2 separate regions of the Homo sapiens genome follow, and region 1 is linked to region 2. Evidence: fine-mapped expression QTL. A gene starts in region 2. The other region holds a variant in brackets. All regions are shown on one strand. Distances are from middle to middle. Region 1 has its middle 13 kb from the start of ADGRE1. Region 2 holds the start of TRIP10 (thyroid hormone receptor interactor 10).

What was found. PIP is the estimated chance that this variant, and not a neighbour inherited with it, causes the effect. A credible set is the group of variants that fine-mapping cannot tell apart.
Region 1: its variant is the best candidate, but not a certain one, in a credible set for the expression of TRIP10 in monocytes (TOPMed, PIP 0.73).

The regions. Positions count from the first base shown.
Region 1 is chr19:6,873,222-6,876,122 of GRCh38, forward strand. No RefSeq gene overlaps it. Among named protein-coding and RNA genes, the nearest start is that of ADGRE1, 13 kb to the right of the region's middle. The variant C/G (reference allele first, on the strand shown) is at 1,337.
Region 2 is chr19:6,738,112-6,741,012 of GRCh38, forward strand. It overlaps TRIP10 (thyroid hormone receptor interactor 10), which reads left to right and starts at 1,569. Exons shown (of 15, transcript NM_001288962.2): 1 at 1,569-1,674; 2 at 2,899-2,901. The coding sequence starts at 1,651. RefSeq lists enhancers at 126-894, 974-1,063, 1,084-1,213, 1,663-2,430 and silencers at 1,414-1,693, 1,734-1,823.

The DNA of each region.
Region 1 (2,901 bases), 140 kb after region 2:
GCCTGGGTGACAGAGTGAGACTCTGTCTCAAAAAATAAATAAAATAAAATAAAATAAATTTTAAAAGAAGAAAGACATTTTGCCTGTGCTTTAAGCCTTTGGGCCCAAGACTGCAGTATCACCTCTTACCTGAATCTGCAGCCTGTCAGATTGCCTTAGGGATTTCGGACTTGTAACCCCTACAATCCCGTGAGCCAGTTCCTTAAAATCACTCTCTCTCTCTTTCTGACTCTCTGTCTCCCTCTCTCTGTCTCTCTGTTTCTCCTCTTAGTTTTGTTTCTCTGGAGAATCTTGGATAATACAAGATCCTTTTAGTTTATTCCCTCTTTGTGTCTGGCTTCTTTTCTGTCTTTTTTCAAAAATTTGCATGAATGTATGAGGTACAAGTCCAGTTTTGGTACATGGATTACTGCTTAGTGGTGAAGTCTGGGCTTTTAGTGTAGCCATCACCCGAGCCATGTACATTGAACCCACTAAGTAATTTCTCATCCCTCACTCCCCTTCCACCCTTCCAAGTCCCCAGTGTCTATTATTCTACACTCTACGTCCATGTGCACGCATTATTTAGCTCCTATTTATAAGTGAGACTATGTGGATTTGACTTTCTGTTTCTGAGTTGTTTTATTTAAGATAACGGCCTTCAGTTCCATCCAGGTGTTACCAAAGACATGATCTCATTCTTTTTTATGGCTGAGTAGTATTCCACAGTTCATATATGTGGGGGGTTCAGTCAGAGTGGTTGGAAAAACTATAAGGAAAGGACTCAAACCTTCTGAAAGTTTGGAAGGTTCTGCAGAGCCCCGGGGGAGGAATAGCTGAAGGCAGCTGTTCTATAACCCTGAGGCAGAGGGCAAGGAGTAGGTACAAGGGAGTGTGGGCGAATTTATCTTAAGCAGGCCTGTTTACTTACGTTGACCAGGAACTGACTTTTGATCATCTGCCTATGTGATGTTCCCTGAAAGGGGAGCAATAAATGTTAATTACCTACAGGTTGTGTGTACTCCATGTTTTTGGCATTGTGCCCACACTGAACAAATGCAAGCAGCTCCAGCTTCTCGGGGCTGCTCTCTGGCCGCTAGAGCCAGGCAGTCACCTGGCTGCTCTTACACTGCATACCTGTGTCTGACTACTCATTTCATCCCATCGGCCAGGGTCTGCGGGACAGACCCAGTACACATACACCACATTTTCTTTATCCAGTTGTCTGTAGATAAGACACTTGGACTGATTTCATATCTTTGCTCTTGTGAATAGTGCTGTGATAAACCTACAAGTGTGGGTATTTTTTTGAGAAAATGATTTCTTTTCATCTGGGTAGAGTGGGACTGTCAGAACG[C/G]CTTCTCAATTTTTTTCTTTTTTTAGAGATGGGGTCTTCCTCTGTCACTCAGGCTGGAGTGCAGGGGTGCAATCATGGCTCACTGCAGCCTCAAATTCCTGGGCTCAAGCGATCCTCCTACCTCAGCCTCCCAAGTAGCTGGGACTACAGACTTGTAGTAATTTTTGTATTTTTAGTAGAGACGGGGTTTCACCATGTTGGTCAGGCTAGTCTCAAACTCCTGACCTCAAGTGATCTACCCACCTCGGCCTCCCAAAGTGCTGGGATTACAGGCATGAGCCATCACACCTGGCTCCCTCTTCTGACTTTTTGCTCTGTATCCTTTCACTGTAACAAATCATAACCATTAGCAAGACTATATGCTGAGTCTTCTTAGAGAATCATTGAGCTTGGGGAGGGGGGTCTCCGGGACGCCTGATAAACCACCCCTACCTTTAAAGAAAGAGCCTTAGGAGCCATAGATAAACCATGAAGTCTTTGGAGGACAATGAAGTCTTTGCATCCACCTCCCTCTTAGAAACCCTGATTCTTTTCTCCTGCAAAAGGGCAGCTGCTGTTCATTTCTCACCCCCTCAAGAATTGTGGTCTTCCTTCTGGGGAAGCGGGGTAGGGATGCAAAGTTCAGTAGATTCATCTATTTCTCTTCCCTTCTTTTTCCTCATTTGTTTCTTTATTTTCTAGGATACAACAGCCAATGAAATTCTTTCCCTGCCCTGAGAAAATGCTCAGTTTTTTGAGGGAAACAGACATTCAAGCAAGCATAGATAATACTGACTATGGTGATGGGGGGGGAGGATGGAGGAGGCGCCTCACTCTCAAGTGGAAGTCAAGGAAGGCTTCCTGGAGGAGGTGATATTTACACAGAAAGGTTGTATAGGATTGGGGTGAATGTGCATTTCAGACTTGGTGTCAAGAGAGAACTGGGTTTGGTGGCACATGCCTGTAATCCCAGCACTTTGGGAGGCTGAGGCAGGAGGATCGTTTGAGCCCAGGAGTTTGAGACCAGCCTGGGCAATAAAGCAAGATCTCATCTCTAAAAGAGAAAAAAAAAAATTAGCAGGGTATGGTAGGGTATGCTTGTGGTCTCAGCTATTTAGGAGGCTGAGGTGGGAGGATTGCTTGAATTCAGGCAGTTGAGGCTGCAGTGAGCTGTGACTGAGCCGTTGCACTCCAGCCTGGGCAACAGAGCAAGTCCCTGTCTCAAAAAAAAGAAAAGAAAAAGAGAGAGAGTTTGAAGTAGAACTTGCTGTGAGGTTTCTTGTGCACAGGTGTTTTTGAGGGAGAAGATCAGGACAGAGCAAGGGAATGAGCTAAGCAAGGAAGTGGTCTTAGCTGGAGTCCAGCCTTAGCCGGATCCCATGGGGAGCCCTGGAGTGTGACTGGTGCCACCAGGTTGGTCTCACCCTGGGGGCATGGGGCTGGCCTTCTGCACCTCTGTGACCATCCGTTATGGCTGTGGGCTGGGTCTGAGGGTTTGCACAGTTGCTCAGCTGAGGAGAAGGGGGAAGCTGTGAGCTATGAGCTATTGTAGGCAGCACTCACTCACAGCAGCCCCAGGATGGGTG
Region 2 (2,901 bases):
TAAAGCTGGCCTCAGGTTAAAGTTTGACCCTAGGATGACCTATGACCCCAGGCTGAGACCCCAGCCTTAGGCTAAGCCTTTTATTCCAGAGTGAGGCAATTGGAGCCCCACCCCCAGATTCCAGGCTAGACCGGACTCCGGGCTGAACTCTGACCCCAGGTGAACTCCCTCTCTGCAAGTTGAGTCCTAACTTCAGCCTGAAACTCTGACACCCCCTCGTCCCCCACACCACACACTGAGGCTTAATCTCTGGTTTAGGCCACCGATCTGGACTAGCCCTGACTCCAGATTGGACCTGACCCCTTACCGGGTTGCTAATCCTTCTGGTTAAGCCTCTGGCCTCTATCCCCTATCCCCACGGTGGTGCTGACCTGGACTGAACCCCAATTCCAGTTTGAGTCTCTGAGCAGAGGTGAACTCAGAACTTTGCTAGGCTGAGCCCCCATTTGAGACTAGCCACAGAACTCACTGGGTTCAATTGCCCAACTGCAATCAGACATTTTCTAGCTCAGAAGCCACCAGCAGGTGGGGCCAGGTCTCAGCAGAGACATCAGTCCCAGTGTGGGCTCCCAAGGCTCTCCTCCTGGGCTCAGCTGTATCTCTCTGTTCTGGGAGCCTGGGTGCTCTGTGTAAGGGGAACGTATACCCAAGGGCCCCCCTGCAAGACGCCCAGCCTTGTCTGAGGCTGCAGAGAAAGCGCCAAAGCCCGGAGAGAATGGGAGTGGGAATCCCCAGTGCCTCCTCTCCTCTTTCATTCCAGCACCTCAAAGGGATTTACAAGGTGTGAACAGACTTTTATGGGAGAGGTGACAGACTTCCCTTCTCCAGGGCCCAGATGGCCCAGATGTCTGGGGGAGGGGCGGAGTCGGAATCTCAGGGGCAGTACTGAGAATGAAACCAGGTTAAACTGGAAAATGGGCAGATGCAGGCGCGAACTGGAAGGCAGCTGGGGAAAGGCCTGGGCCTGGCGCCCCAAGGACGGCCTGTCTTCAGTTTCCCAGCGGAGACTCTGGGGGAGGGAAGGCAGGATGCGGTGCGGGAGTTAATGGACCTGGCCTTGGCGAAGGCGCGTCCTGGGTTGGATCGAAACCCTCTCATCCGCCCTGTGGCCGGAGGGACCAGACCATTAGTGGGACGAACCTAGACGCCTGGAGCCGGGCCGGCTCGCAAGAACGGGGTGACCTCAGGTTGCCCCTGCAATGGGGTTGAGGAAGGACTTCTTGAGTTTGGGGTTTTAGTGTCTTGGCCCTTTAAGGAATAATTGCGGGGAAAGGGGAAAAGGAGATGGGAAGAACCGTTTGGAGCGGGGAAGGAAGATGAGAGGACGAGAGGGACCCCGGGGATTTGGAAAAAATGGGTGGGGGTTCTTTAAGGGGTCGGTCCAGCGGCGTCGAGTGGCAACGTTGCTTTAAAAGGGGGCGGAGCGTCCGTTGGGCCCCGCCCCCGAATCGCAGTGCTTGGGCTCCGCGCGGGTGGGGGCGTGGCAGAGCGTGCAGGGGGGCGGGGAAGAGTCTGGGGTGGGCGGGGCCGGGCGGGGCGGGGCGGGGCCAGGCGCACCGCCCTCGGCTGAGTCTCCCCGGGGAGGGCGGCGGGCGGCGGGCGGCGGGGACCGGGTGCGGTGGTGGCTGCGGCGGCGGCGGCGGGAGCAGCATGGATTGGGGCACTGAGCTGTGGGTAAGTCCAATCGGCCCGCCTCTAAGTTCCCCTTTGCTGGGGTCCAGGCACCCCCCTTTTGTCCCCAATGTATCTTAGAGGGGGCTCCGCGCCTTTCCCTTCCACCGACCCCTGGGTCCCCGCCCTCCACCCTCCGCTCTCTCTCGAAGTTTATCTGGGAGTCTCAGCACGCTCAGGGGCGAAGGGCGACTTTGCCGGACCGGAGTGGGGAAACTGAGGCACAGGGTTGCGAATGAGGCGGGCAGAAGGAATCCTGGGGCCAGGCCGGGGCGGCTGAGAGAGGTCACCTATTTTGGGCGCCCTGGCCGGGCAGGCGGCTTATCTTACGGCCCCTGGGTCCCTGCCCGTCGTCCGCCTGTCCGGCTAGGAGGGGGGAGGGGACCCTCTGGTCACCCTCATCCCCACCCACGTGGGACCTAGAAGTCCTGACCGCCCTTTCCCTCGCCTTTAATCAACACCTAGGGGCTGGGGACGCTCATGGAGGGGAAGGGGGATGCTAAGCTCGGCCTGATCCCCCTCCCTGGCTTCCCCCTGCTCACCCCAGGCCCAGGGCGGGACCGCCCCCTGGTCGCCTATAACCTCAGCCCTGGAAGCCCCAGAAATTTCCCCCTATCCTAGCCGGACCTCTGACCCCTCCCCTTGCTGGGGGCGGTGGAATCCCTGAGTTCTTAGTGCAGCGGGGGTAACCAGACTGCCACCCCCTCCTCCAATTCTGCGATTTCTTTTGGATGTGTAGTGGGGTCAGTGGGGTAAATTGAGTCACCCATCGGGGGATCCCTGGAAGCAGGGAGATTCAGGGAACCTGGTGCCTGCCCCCTGGCCACTCAGGGGCCCCCAGTCTGCCAGGAACCCTGCCCCTCTGGCCTTGACTCACGCCGGGCCGGCCGGATTTTCCGGAATCCGGGGGGATTAGGGGAGCCCGAGCTGGGGGAGTGGCCCTGTCCCCTTCCACGCCCCTCTTGGCGGTCCTATGTCGGAGACCTCCATCTCCCGGCCGGGGTGGCTGGGGCCTGGGCGCTGTTCTCCGGCCCTTCCCGGGAAGGGGAGGGGGTTCCCGCCAGTTTCCTGCCTCCCCCCGCGCCACGCCGGGGCGGCGCCGGGAAGCCACTCCTTCTAGGAGCGCAGAGCCTTGGCCCTCCCTGGGAGTCTGGTCGGCGGGCTGTGGGGTCCCAAAATCGTGACCCCGGCCCCTCTCCCCTCCTCCCCCACCATGTCCCATGTCAGGAT